2 linked regions of the Homo sapiens genome follow. The protein of the gene in region 2 purifies or fractionates together with the protein of the main gene of each other region. This does not show direct contact. Each region holds a gene or a part of one and is shown on either strand. Other genes may lie near its edges.

The links. Proteins that work in one complex are often made in the same cells at the same time.
Region 1: the proteins of MAGEA4 (region 2) and AMOTL1 purify together in Homo sapiens (affinity purification with mass spectrometry; 4 studies listed by BioGRID and IntAct, with this or other methods). This does not show direct contact.

Annotation. Positions count from the first base shown.
Region 1 is NC_000011.10:94,869,351-94,876,378, reverse strand, and holds part of AMOTL1 (angiomotin-like protein 1), read right to left. Parts: coding exon 6,906-7,028; intron 5,691-6,905; coding exon 5,584-5,690; 3' UTR 1-5,583. UniProt on the Homo sapiens protein: Inhibits the Wnt/beta-catenin signaling pathway, probably by recruiting CTNNB1 to recycling endosomes and hence preventing its translocation to the nucleus.
Region 2 is NC_000023.11:151,915,889-151,922,916, reverse strand, and holds part of MAGEA4 (melanoma-associated antigen 4), read right to left. Parts: intron 6,681-7,028; exon of another isoform or gene 6,597-6,680; intron 5,993-6,596; exon of another isoform or gene 5,915-5,992; intron 4,630-5,914; exon of another isoform or gene 4,561-4,629; intron 4,008-4,560; exon of another isoform or gene 3,880-4,007; intron 3,325-3,879; exon of another isoform or gene 3,195-3,324; intron 392-3,194; exon of another isoform or gene 286-391; intron 1-285. UniProt on the Homo sapiens protein: Regulates cell proliferation through the inhibition of cell cycle arrest at the G1 phase. Also negatively regulates p53-mediated apoptosis.

The sequences.
Region 1 (7,028 bases), on a different chromosome or scaffold from region 2:
ACACAGAGCAGGTTGGAGGGCAGCGGCAGCAGGACAGCTGAAATCGGGTGCCCATGCTTACCACTGTTTCACAGAATTTTACACAATTCTGTAAGTGCTCATGGAGGAGGAGGCTCCCTGTTCCTCCTCAAAAGGAAAAAAAACAAAAAACAAAAAAACACCTTGATTCAAATAAAACCAATGTGGATATATTTGCTTACATTCCGTTTTGTAATAAATACTTACAGGTGTCTCTATGTGAACAGACTCCTAGGCACAATCACATGTAAACACAACACCGGGCATCCAGACTTTGGGGGCTGATACAAGAAAACGCTGTATATGTAGTTCAATATAGAGAGAGCAGTATTCTAATTCTGTGAAGAAGCAAAGTTTCATGACAAAGAAACACCCCAGTCACATCATAACATGACAATAACATGCACTAAAGTAAACACAGTTTTACAGAATACCTACCAGATGTTTATATGAATGATTATGCACTTATATCTGTAGTGTATGCAGAGATGTGAACACATAGGAGGCATGGCAAGAGAATTGATTTTTAAAAATCTGTGTGCTAATGAGGATGATCCCCCCTTGAAGTGGACACTTTGAGAGGCTCTGAGGCCAAAGACTCATTCCAAGAAATTTCTTAGGGATTTTTTTAGAAACAAAAATGGTGTAACTTACCTTAATTGCCATCTTTTTTCATCCAACTGTGCTATCAAGCACTTGAGATTATTTCCAGAACTTAAATCCATCCTCAAAGGAGGAGGATTTCTCATCTCTAAGGGTAAACCAAAGGAACATGCCAAGCCCTGAAGGCCATTCTAGTAGAAGAGTTCCCAAGATATTTTTACTTGGCAGCACTATAGTCAATGAGCACATAGTCTCCCAAAAGACACCTTTTAAGGAGGGCGGGGTGAGATGAACACTTTGATCTTCTGTATGTTAGGAAAAGAAATTCCCACAAACAACCCTATAGTCATACCTCATATGTATGCACTCACTTATACACATGTCTTTATATACCATTAAATTACTAAGTGAGAAAAGGGTATACTACTTAAGAGAAAGAGGAAAAATTGCTCATTTGTTCCAGGAGAAATTCACTACTGAAATGCTAACTTTTGCATTTCCCCAGCCGACCAATTTCTGGTAACTTCTTAATTACTTTGCCTATCTCCCATGGAGCCACACGTCAGAGGCAAACTCATTAAACAATCGTCACATCTAATGAAGACATTTTAAACACTTTAATTACTTAAACAACAAGAAAAGAAACATTTATAAAGCATATACCAAGGCTGTCTCAGGTTTTAGGATGTGGAGAAGCCAATGGTAGGCTGGATACTCTCTGGCTACTTAAAGCCTTACCCATTTAAGAACATTTGTGGGATCCCACTGACTATGGTCATGGTACTCCTTTGCTTAAGAGGAGTGCAAGATCATTCAGAGAACACAGAGAAGCATGCTCCACTTACTCCAGCGTGGACACTGGTTTTGAACCCTGGTTTTGAAAAACACATCTCTTTGCTCAGCATAACTCCCTGCAGTCAAAACATGAGCCCCCTGCCTCAAAAGCTTTTAATGCCCCAATCTATTATCCACTGCTTCTGAGGTCCGCAGCCTCACCTGAAGTCTGTGTCCCTAAGTCTCTGGGACTCAGGTCAATGGGGAGGAAGAATTTCCCATTCTCTCAGCACCTGGCATGAAGGTGCTACAGCCACTGCATCATGAGGGTGCGCACCCAGGTGAGAACAAACAAGAGTAATGACTGGCTGCTCTGCACGGGGCATTCTGAACACCTCCTTCCTGAGTAACAGAAGCACTGAATTCTCTGTTCCAGGTTCAGAACTAATTTGTTGCAACTGTTTTGGTATCCATGCCAAGCCTTGTGGAGTCAAACTCATACATGAGTTCCAAAGAGCAACCCCAGAGGACTGCACCCAGAAGGGCTCCACCACTGCCTGCTCTCCCAACGAAAGCCTGAGGAGGGCCAAGGCAGCCCCTGCCCTGCGTGCATGGTTAGAACATGCTGAACTCTGCAGTGTCACTGGCTGCCAGCCTCTGGGAGGCAGAGAAAATGCTGAGAAGAAAACGCTAAGAAAGGGTTCTGCACATGCTCTGAAAGTTTTGGAAGATAATGTGTTTTTCCTGGCAGCTTAGCTATATGGACCTGCAGACAGTAATAGTTCTCATGTACAGAGGCATCTAATTAGTGAAACTCTAGCTTCAGAGACCTGACTCCAACTTCTCCAGTTCCATATAATATCCTGGCAGCACACAGAAACTGCCAGACAACGCAGTCAAGGGTGAAGCAGAACAATGCTGGAATACCTTCCCGTGAAGCCAGGGCCTCTCCCCTTCATCCTGAGATAGGACCCTCAAGTTCTATAATCAGGCTCCACTGGGAAAGTTTGAAGTCCAGGTCTCTGGGAAGTGCAGAAATATTTTTTAGGTATAGTTTGGAGCTGTGCTTCTGGTGGAACACAATAATTTCCATCTATGCCTAGCATTTATAGGTGATTCTAGGAGTTCTGGGCTTAGTCCTATTTCTTAGGCTCTGAGATGTGTGATAGCTGTGTGTGTGTGTGTGTGTGTGTGTGTGTGTGTGTGTAGTTACACGTGCACACACACATCACAGACAGGCATAGAGACTGCCAAGATGCAGTGCCGCATGTTAGAGGCTGTACAGCCAGGGTCTATGCCCAGTGCCTCTCCAAACTTTGTTTTAAATCATCCTAGCTTCTCCTGGCTGTGAGATTTCAGGAAGGGACTTAACCTTTCTGAGCCCATTTCCTCATCAGTGAAATCAGAATAATAAACGCACCCCCTGTACTCCAGGTGGGTGGAGGACTAATTAAAAGGTATTTACCACACTGTTTGCATACAGTTGACACTAGAAAATATAGTTGCATTATTTTTCTGAAAATCTGTTTAAGATATTGTAAGCTGCCCAGAACTCAGAGCAGGTACTCAGTATATGGCCGGACTTCAGGAAAGCTCTAATGATGAAAGAATTTAGTGCCCTGGCTTGGCAGGAAATTTCCCATAGAAGAAGACATTTTAAAGCTATAGATCCTGTTCTTAAGGAAGAGTCTCAGTAGGTTAAGAGAAAAAAAATACGGTCAAAGTCCAAAATACAATGCCGTTGAAGCCCTGAAACATGGCGATGTGTCTGTTTACAATGAAAACACTTGGCAGCTCAGGGGGACCTCGAAGAGCAAGCAAGTCTGACACCTGATTGGGGCAATCAGGTGTCTGGGGCATGAAGACGAGGCTTCGGGAGAAACAGCTGGGTCTCTCACTCTAACCTATGTCTAAGGGAGGCAGCCCAAGTTTGGGGTGGCCCAGACCTGATGGTAGGGGCTGGCAGAGTTGATTTACCTTCCTATCTCTAGACATTTTCCTTTCTGGTCCATCCCCAACATAAACTGGGGTCAAAATGTCCTTAAGAGAGTTAGCTGTCATCTCCTAACTCATCTCCTATGAAATGTGGTGGGAACAGAGATTAGGAAGGGATGTCTATGCCCTCTCCCCACCCATGTCCATCCTCAACCCTTTCCCCCATGGATGAGGCCTCCTGTGCCCTCTTCCCACACCCTATGGCATGGGGTGAGCTCCATGCTCAGCCTCTCAGAGCTCCTCAGTTTTCCTGTCTGCACAACAGGTACTCCGATGCTCAGTGTGAGACTAGAGGAGGTGATGAGCAGGTGGCACAATGTGCAGTGCCTATGGCCAAGCAGAGCCCCAGAGGGCCAGTTCCCACTCCTCTGTCGTACTGGGTGGCACAGAGGCTGGCCAAAGCCACTGATTTCTTCCCTTCCCTCTCCAGCTTACACCTCTTGTCTTCCTTCTGTCACCTCAATTTGGGGAGGCTATAACTTCACCGGGGTTACACACCCAAGACCAGTCCATTTTAGGATCCAAGCAAAGTTTCCTGAGTAGCACTCTCTTGAGTGTTTCATTTAGAAGGTACTTGGAAGAGGTACCCCCCTTTCTTTCTTCCTCTAAGTAAGCATGAGCAAAGGGAACTGGGAAAACAGCGATCCAGCTGACCTGGAGGTACAAAAACATCAGGACCCTGTAGGAGCATCTCTCTGATGGCCCGATGAGCTTCTCCTCTTTTCTAATCCAGCATCTCTTAGATTTGTAAAGGAAGCCAGTGTCTGCAGAGCTGAATATGCAATGTCACAGCAGAGGTCTAATGGACCCACCACCTAACACACTCCTGCCTCTTTTCCGTGGCACTTCTGTCTCACTTTGAATAAACTGCCTCAAAACTGAAACCCGGAAAAACCTGACAACACTGTATATACAACTGGCCTGGTAGGTTACAAAAGAAGTTCACAACAGAGGCAACCTGGTGCCACGGAGGTCTGGATGCTGATCGAGAGCAAGCAGAGGCGTGCGCGGGGGAGGAAAGAGTGTGAATACGCTCATGAGCCTCAATACAAGAAGCTATACGGGAGGCTGGTGAGATTCTGGAAACCACTGAGACAACTGTCTGTAAATTGTCATCTGTTTCCTGGAGTGCTGTCCTAAGTCTTCCCCAAACAGAGCAATGGAATTTGGAAATGTCAAGCTCCTTGCAAGACAGCCGATGTGAAAGACAAAAAAGCAAGTGCCACGATCTTAATGCAATATGTCACAGGGACCCACGGAATCTCCTGCCTCCTCAAAGCTTGCTTAGTTCACAGTCAGAATGAGGTTCGCAGCTGCAACCCAGCTATGCAAAGGTGAAGCAGCCAGGAAGTCGGCACGTGGCTTTGTCCTACTGGTCACTATCAAACACAGTAGGAATGATGACAGTTCAGGTACTGGTCTCATAAATCCCATACCTAAGGAATTCTGCTATGTCTTATTAAAAAGAAAAAAATGAAGGAACAACAAAAAATTAAAGACTGTAAAGCAGAGACAGAGATGAACTCAGAAGTTAGGATGGATGGGGACCGAGATCATAATCTATCCTGTTTAGAAAATACTGCAGAATTCAGAAAAGCTAAGAAGCCCAATCATCTCTTGAAAATCCAAACCAAACAGGTAATTAGGTGAAGACCAACTTTCATATTCCCCTCGCCCTCGATGCTTCTTCTCACTGCCACACTCACACTCACGGGACACCCCATGGTTGGCACAGGTGACACTGCATTATGCCAAGACAGGCTCTCAAGATTTCCTGGAGGCTTTTCTTAAATCAAACATGCTAAGAGGCAAGGAGAATGGGGGTATTCCAAGGATGATCCACATTTGGGTTTATCTGTTTATAATCAGAGAATGGGGGTACACAGGCCCTCCCCAAGAGATACATTTTCTGTACAATGAAAAATTCAGTTTCCTATTTCTTAACTTTGTTTGCAAACCTACACGCCTCTTCTCTCTTCCACCATGTGTAATAAAATCCATCGCATTCTCTTCTATCTTCAGTCATGTAGTTTTTGTGTTTAACATTTATAAAATGTGTTCTTATGAGTCTGAAATCTTTATCAGTTCAAATCATTCCTGATTTCCCATCTACAACCTTCTAGGTCTTTCTTCTTTCTCTGCCGCTTTCCTTGTTTGTCAGTGTTCTGTACTGAAATTCCACAGGGATGGCAGTTAGATGAGGACTTCCATCATCTCTCCATCAGGGAACTCGGGCTTGTGCAGCAAGCTGCTGACCCGGCCTCTGTGGTCAGGCGACTTCCCATGGCCAGGAGAGTTCTCTGCCAAATAGAGGGGAAACATCAGCTGCCCATTCCTCAGGAGGGGCATAGGCTTTCCAGGTTCTCTAAAATGGACCCACGTCCGATACCACTGCACACCCAGGATTCTCACCACAGGGCATGTGAGATGATCCAGCCCACAGTGGGAACATGCAGAATGACTGGGCCAGGATTCAGACACAAATACAAACCAGGATGGTGAAGGGAGAGGATTCAGAAGGTGAGGATGACAGTGGGACTCTGTACAGGAGCCCCTCACACCCTCTACTCAAAACTATCAGGTGCATATTCTGAGCTAGGCACTTTTGACAGGTTCTCTGGCTTACTTGGAAAAGAATCACATCTTTAAAAAGTGACAACATTGTATTTACTTGTCTACTTTGAAAAATGAAATAAACAACCCCCTTGGAGGAAACAGTTAACTTAGGGCCCACAGAGCCTGCACCTCCTCAAAAGAATTCCTGAAAAGGGAGGTCCCCATGACCATGATTAGTCTCAGGTTTTAGGATGTGGAGAAGCCAATGGTAGGCTGGGTACTCTCTGGCTACTTAAAGCCTTACCCATTTAAGAACATTTGTGGGATCCCACTGACCATGGCCATGGTACTCCTTTGCTTAAGAGGAGTGCCTTAAGAGGCCAGGTCTATTCTTACCCAGGACACTTAGGGACTCACTGCAAAGATCACCTCTCCCAAGTTGTCTTCCCGTAAATATTTTAAACAGCTCGTTAGTCCTGGCCCAAGTGCTGTGCCACACGTTAACCGACTCTGCAGGTCAATCTACCTTCTCCTTCCATCACAATGTCCTCCACTGAGGCCAGAATCCCTGGTAAGTTAGAGCCCTGAAGGCAACAGTGAACTTGTGCCTTTGATGTACCTGGTGCCTAATTCTGGCTCCCAAACATACCAGAGGGCATTCAGCCCCTTAGAGGGTCTGTTGTCACTCCATCCGGGGAAAGGTTAGTTAAAAAGTATGCATTGCCAGGGTAGTCTCAAGCCGTGCACTCATTTCAAATAGTAATAAACTAGATGTGTCTATATGCATATTTATTCCCGTAATAAGAAAGGGCACACATATCCTAAGTGCATTAGAATAGCATCCCCATAGAGTAAGAGCTGATGGGTGCCCCTGCTTCCTCTCTAGCTCAACAAAAGATTCTCTTAGGCCAGACAGTTCCACAGTTTTCAGGGGCATCAAGGTGGGGTAGCCCACATACCCAGTTTCTCTGCGGTCCCTTTGGCCGCTGGGTGTTTCAGGACGGGGCTGTGAGCAGGGGTCGTGCTCAGCCGGCCGCGGCTGGGAAGGGAGGCCATGCTGGGCCAGAAGAGCTCGGCACTCT
Region 2 (7,028 bases):
GTCGAAATTCATTGGAACCCATGTGTCCTGGATGCGGAGCCTGCTTGGTCCTCACCTCAACTCCTGGCAGAGCCTGGGACCCTCCCTCTACTGACCTGGGTGCAGCCCCCTCAGACCAAGGCCTCCCACTCCGTGACACCAGTGATCCCAGGATAAGAGAGGGACCTCAGCAGAAAGCCAAGCCCATGCTCTCTGGGGTGACAACAGGAGCAGGGCTGATTTCTGTGGGGTCATCATCTGCGTTCTGGCCCTGTGGTACCCTCAATCCTCCCTCACATTCCTCACCAGGACTCTTGGCAGATCCTGGGACCACTGTGTCTGTAGACCAGATGGGGGTCCCTGTGGTGACCTGAGTCACCCTCTGAGAACAAGGTCCTCACCTCACTGAGATCTGGAATCAGAAATGAGAAGGAGCCACATCCTGTCACCCCTGTGTGGGGTGCCCAGGGCTGACCCCTTTGGTTCTGGGGTGAGGGTTCTGATGGCCTCCTGTGGGGTACTCATGTTTGCTCCTGACAGGGCCTGCCCTTCCTCAACCCCCAACCCCCTGAGATGAGCAAACATTGCCCCTTTACTCCAAAACCTCATCTCCCTGAAGGTTCCCCAACTTCCTGCCTGTGGAACAAGTGAAATTGGCACATAGGGCCATCCCTCCTCTGGTCCCCCCTGAGCTAAGAACAGGGGACAGCCAGACTCTGTGGGGTCCCGTCTTTCTGAGCCACAGGTATCCCCATTCCTCGTGAAGTGTGGCACACCTTGGGTCCTGTAGATCCTGGGACTCCTCCCTCTGCGGACCTGAAGTACCACCCCTCAGACCATAGCCCTCTCCTCTCTGTGACCTCGAAGATGCAGGAAGTATGAGCTACAGGTGGCTACCTTGCCCAGGACCTCCCAGGGCCCAGGTCTCCACTGATCTGGAATGCAAGGCCCCCTGAATCCTCCCTCGTCTTCCTTTCCTTGATCCTGGAAGGGCTTGGAACCCACCCCTCTGCTGACCTGAGTTGCCATCCCTTGGATTCCTGAGGCTAAAAGAGGAGGCACCTCATTCTCAGACGGGGTGGGGTGGGCTCCCTGCCTTGGGGTGCTGGGTCTCCTGAGGCCTTCCTCATCTCCCAGGAGGGCCAGGGTCCTCCCTCTGCTACCCTGAGGCTCTGCTCATGATACCAAACCCTCTCCCTCCTTCAGCCCTCGATGTGGATGTCAAGATCCGAGTGCCTGACCATTCCCAGGTCTTCCCGGGGTTGACTGCAGGGGAAAAAATGGATTCTGCAAAACGGAGTTGGGGATGGGGCTGGGCATGTTGGAATGCGGATGGGGTGGGGGTGTAGCGCCCTCAGTTCCCTCTCAAGGTCCTGACCCCGATGCCAGGCAGAGCCTGGGCCCTGCCTTGGGCACACCAAGCTCTTGACTCTAGAGTCCCCTGTAGCTTTAGTGGCAGTGGGAGCTGGGATGGCCTAGCCTGAGAAGTCTTCCCCCGGGTGGTCCAGGACTGGCAGCAGGAGCTGCGCTGGATTATTTGGGTTCCTCTATCTTGGGTGGGGGCCTCCTCAGTCCTTCCTCAGAGTCTCACCTTGCCTCGCCACAGAGCTTGGGCCCGCTCCCCTCAGCCGATCTCAACTGGCCCCTCAGGACTATGCCCTTGATTCTCTGACCCCCAAAAAACATCCCAGCACCAAGCCTGGGGTTTCCCTGGATTGATAGCAGAAGGGGAACTGGATTCTGCCTGGTGAGGGTGGAGGGCAAGGAATGGGAAATGGAGCAGCGAAATGGCAGCGGATTTGTGGGAGTGGGGGTTAGACTAGGATCTTGGGGGACCTCAGTTCCCTCTCAGGTTTCTGACTTTGATTCCTGGCAGGGCCTGGGCCATGCCCTCTCCTAACCAGCCCTTCCCTGATCACACCAACCTCTGACTCCAGAGTCCCCTGTGGCTTAAACAAACGCGTTGCGAAGGGGGCGGAGGTGGGGAGCAGCCCAGTCTGAGAAGTCAGCCTCCGCGGGGTAGTCCAGGGCTGGGACCCTCTATCAGGGATAGGGGTTTCCTGAATCCTCCCTCAGAGTCTCACTTTGCCTCTTCACAAAGCCTGGGCCACCTTCCCTCTGCCGATCTCAAGCCACCCTTCAGACCCAGAAACTCACTTCTCTCTAACCCTCAATTCACAAGTCAGTGGCATCACATCCGGCCACCCAGGGCTTGCCTGGATTGAAAGCAGGGGTGGAACCGGATGCTGCGCTGATGGGGATGAAGGTAGGGGTGGGGGAGGGGGGTATGAGGCTGGTTGGGGGGTTGGGGAGGATAGGGGCACAGGTGGGGAATGGGGGTACAGATGGGGTAGGGAGTGCAGATGGGAAAGGGGTAGGGGATAGGAATGGGGGTGGGGGACACTCAGCCCTCTCCTAGGGTCCTGACGTTGATGCCTGGCAGAGCCTACCCCCACCAGTCCTGCACTGATCACACCAAGCTCTGACTCCATAGTCCCCTGCGGCTTCAGCGGCAGTGGGGTGGTGGGCGTCCCAGACTCAGAAGTCCGCCCACGGGTGGCCCAGGACTGGAAGCAGGAGGGGTGCCGGATTATTTGGGGTCGTCTATCTGGGGTGGAGAGGGCCTCCCGACTTCTCCCTCAGCTTCTCACTATGCCACCTCACAGAGCCTGGACCGGCTTCCCTCTGCCAATCCCAAGCTGCCTGTCAGACTGAGAAGCTAGCGTCTCTCTAACCCCCAATGCACAAGTCACTGGCATCACATCCAGGAACCTGGAGCTTCCCTGGGTTGAAAGCAGAAACGGAATGCGATTCAACCTGGATGGGGATAGTGGTGTTGGGGTGGGGGATGAGGACATAAGGGTAGTGGGGGTTTGGGGAGGATAGGGGTGCTGGTGGGGGATAGGGTGTAGATGGGGTTGGGAGTGTGGATGGGAATGGGAAGGGGGATGGGAATGGGGGTGGGGGACCCTCGGCCCTCTCTTACAGTCCTGAGGTTGATGCCTGGCAGAGCCTGCCCTCACCAGTCTTGCACTGATCACCCCAAGCTCTGACTGCAGAGTCCCGTGCGACTTCAGAGGCAGTGGGGTGGTGGGCGCCCCAGACTCAGAAGTCCCCCCACGAGTGGCCCAGGGCTGGGAGCATGAGTGGTTCGGGATTATTTGGGATTGTCTATCTGCGGTGGGGGCCTCCTGAGTCCTCCCTCAGCGTCTCACCTTGACTCCTCACAGGGCCTGGCCCGCTTCCCTCCACCAGTCCCAAGCTGCTGGTCAGACAGAGCAGCTCGCTTTTCTCTAACCCCCAATGCGCAAGTCAGTGGCATCACATTCCGGCACCTGCGGCTTTCTTGGGTTGAAAGCGGAAGCAGAACCCGATTCAGCGTGGATGGGGGTGGGAGGAGTGAGGTCGGTGGAGGGGGCGCGTTTTGGGGGTGGGTTGAAAGCGGAAGCAGAACCTGATTCAGTGTGGATGGGGGTGGGAGAGGTGAGGTTGGTGGAGGGGCCCGGGTTTTGGGGTGGGAGATGGTGGTGTGAGAGAGGTGCGGGGTTGAGGAGGATAGGAGCCTGGTGGGGGATGGGGGCGCGGATGGGTTTGGGAGTGCAAATAGTAATGGGAAAGGGGAGGGGGTGGGGGATGGGAATGGGGGTGGGGTACGCTTAGCCCTCTCTTAGGGTCCTGAGGTTGATGCCTCGTAGAGCCTGCCCTCACTAGTCTTACACTAACCACCCCAAGCTCGGACTCCAGAGTCCCATGTGACTTCAGACGCAGTGGGGTGGAGGGCGCCCCAGACTCAGAAGTCAGCCCACGGGTGGCCCACGGCTGGTAGCAGGAGTGGTGCGGGATTATTTGGGGTCGTCTATCTGGGGTGGGGGCCTCCTGAGTCCTCCCTCAGCGTCTCACCTTGACTCCTCACAGGGCCTGGCCCGCTTCCCTCCACCAATCCCAAGCGGCTGGTCACAGAGCAGCTCGCTTCTCTCTAACCCCGAATGCGCAAGTCAGTGGCATCACATCCGGGCCCCTGGGGCTTTCTTGGGTTGAAAGAGAAACCAGAAATCAGATTCAGCGTGGATGGGGGTGGGAAGGGTGAGGTCGGTGGAGGGGGCGGGTTTTTGGGGGTGGGTTGAAAGCGGAAGCGGAACGTGATTCAGTGTGGATGGGGGTGGGAGGGGTGAGGTTGGTACAAGGGCCCGGGTTGTTGGGGTGGGAGATGGCGGTATGAGAGAGGTGGGGGGTTGAAGAGGAGAGGAGTGCTGGTGGGGGATGGGGCGTGGATGGTTTGGGAGTGCAAATGGTAATGGGAAAGGGGACGTGGTGGGGGATGGGAATAGGGGTGGGGTACGCTTAGCCCTCTCTTAGGGTCCTGAGATTGATGCCCGGCAGAGCCTGGCCTCACTAGTCTTACACTAAACACCCCAAGCTCTGACTCCAGAGTCCCATGCGACTTCAGAGGCAGTGGGGTGGTGGGCGCCCCAAGCTCAGAAGTCCGCCCACAGGTGGCCCACGGCAGGTAGGAGTGGTGCGGGATTATTTGGGGTCGTCTATCTGGGGTGGTGGCCTCCTGAGTCCTCCTCAGCGTCTCACCTTGACTCCTCACAGGGCCTGGCCTGCTTCCTTCCACCAATCCCAAGCTGCTGGTCAGACAGCAGCTCGCTTCTCTCTAACCCCCAATGCGCAAGTCAGTGGCATCACATCCGGGCCCCTGAGGCTTTCTTGGGTTGAAAGCGGAAGCGGAAACACGATTCAGCGTGGATGGGGGTGGGGGGGAGGTCGGTGGAGGGGGCGGGTTTTTGGGAGTGGGTTGAAAGCGGAAGCGGAACCCGATTCAGCGTGGATGGGGGTGGGAGGGGTGAGGTTGGTGGAGGGGCCCCGGTTTTTGGGGTGGCAGATGGCGGTATGACAGAGGTGGGGGGTCGAGGAGGAGTGCTGGTGGGGGATGGGGGCGGGGATGGGTTTAGGAGTGCAAATGGTAATGGGAAAGGGGACGTGGTGGGGGATGGGAATAGGGGTGGGGTACGCTTAGCCCTCTCTTAGGGTCCTGAGATTGATGCCCGGCAGAGCCTGGCCTCACTAGTCTTACACTAAACACCCCAAGCTCTGACTCCAGAGTCCCCTGCGACTTCAGAGGCAGTGGGGTGGTGGGCGCCCCAAGCTCAGAAGTCCGCCCACAGGTGGCCCACGGCTGGTAGGAGTGGTGCGGGATTATTTGGGGTCTTCTATCTGGGGTGGTGGCCTCCTGAGTCCTCCTCAGCGTCTCACCTTGACTCCTCACAGGGCCTGGCCTGCTTCCTTCCACCAATCCCAAGCTGCTGGTCAGACAGCAGCTCGCTTCTCTCTAACCCCCAATGCGCAAGTCAGTGGCATCACATCCGGGCCCCTGAGGCTTTCTTGGGTTGAAAGCGGAAGCGGAAACACGATTCAGCGTGGATGGGGGTGGGGGGGAGGTCGGTGGAGGGGGCGGGTTTTTGGGAGTGGGTTGAAAGCGGAAGCGGAACCCGATTCAGCGTGGATGGGGGTGGGAGGGGTGAGGTTGGTGGAGGGGCCCCGGTTTTTGGGGTGGCAGATGGCGGTATGACAGAGGTGGGGGGTCGAGGAGGAGTGCTGGTGGGGGATGGGGGCGCGGATGGGTTTAGGAGTGCAAATGGTAATGGGAAAGGGGACGTGATGGGGGATGGGAATAGGGGTGGGGTACGCTTAGCCCTCTCTTACGGTCCTGAGATTGATGCCTGGCAGAGCCTGGCCTCACTAGTCTTACACTAAACACCCTAAGCTCTGACTCCAGAGTCCTCTGCGACTTCAGAGGCAGTGGGGTGGTGGGCGCCCCAGACTCAGAAGTCCGCCCACAGGTGGCCCACGGCTGGTAGCAGGAGTGGTGCGGGATTATTTGGGGTCGTCTATCTGGGGTGGGGGCCTCCTGAGTCCTCCCTCAGCATCTCACCTTGACTCCTCACAGGGCCTGGCCCGCTTCCCTCCGCCAATCCCAAGCGGCTGGTCAGAGCAGCTCGCTTCTCTCTAACCCCCAATGCGCAAGTCAGTGGCATCACATCCGGGCACCTGGGACTTTCTTGGGTTGAAAGCGGAAGCGGAAACCCGATTCAGCGTGGAAGGGGGTGGGAGGGGTGAGGTCGGTGGAGGGGGCGGGTTTTTGGGGGTGGGTTGAAAGCGGAAGCGCAACCCAATTCAGCATCCATGGGGGTGGGAGGGGTGAGGTTGGTGGAGGGGCCCCAGTTTTTGGGGTGGGAGATGGCGGTGTGAGAGAGGTGCGGGGTTGAGGATAGGAGTGCTGGTGGGGGATAGGGGCGCGGATGGGTTTGGGAGTGCAAATAGTAATGGGAAAGGGGAGGCGGTGGGGGATAGAAATAGGGGTGGGGTACGCTTGGCCCTCTCTTAGGGTCCTGAGGTTGATGCCTCGTAGAGCCTGCCCTCACTAGTCTTACACTAACCACCCCAAGCTCGGACTCCAGAGTCCCATGCGACTTCAGACGCAGTGGGGTGGAGGGCGCCCCAGACTCAGAAGTCCGCCCACGGGTGGCCCACGGCTGGTAGCAGGAGTGGTGCGGGATTATTTGGGGTCGTCTATCTGGGGTGGGGGCCTCCTGAGTCCTCCCTCAGCGTCTCACCTTGACTCCTCACAGGGCCTGGCCCGCTTCCCTCCGCCAATCCCAAGCTGCTGGTCAGACAGAGCAGCTCGCTTCTCTCTAACCCCCAATGCGCAAGTCAGTGGCATCACATCCGGGCCCCTGGGGCTTTCTTGGGTTGAAAGAGGAAGCGGAAATCAGATTCAGCGTGGATGGGGGTGGGAGGGGTGAGGTCGATGGAGGGGGCGGGTTTTTGGGGGTGGGTTGAAAGCGGAAGCGGAACGTGATTCAGTGTGGATGGGGGTGGGAGGGGTGAGGTTGGTACAAGGGCCCGGGTTGTTGGGGTGGGAGATGGCGATATGAGAGAGGTGGGGGGTTGAAGAGGAGAGGAGTGCTGGTGGGGGATGGGGCGTGGATGGTTTGGGAGTGCAAATGGTAATGGGAAAGGGGACGTGGTGGGGGATGGGAATAGGG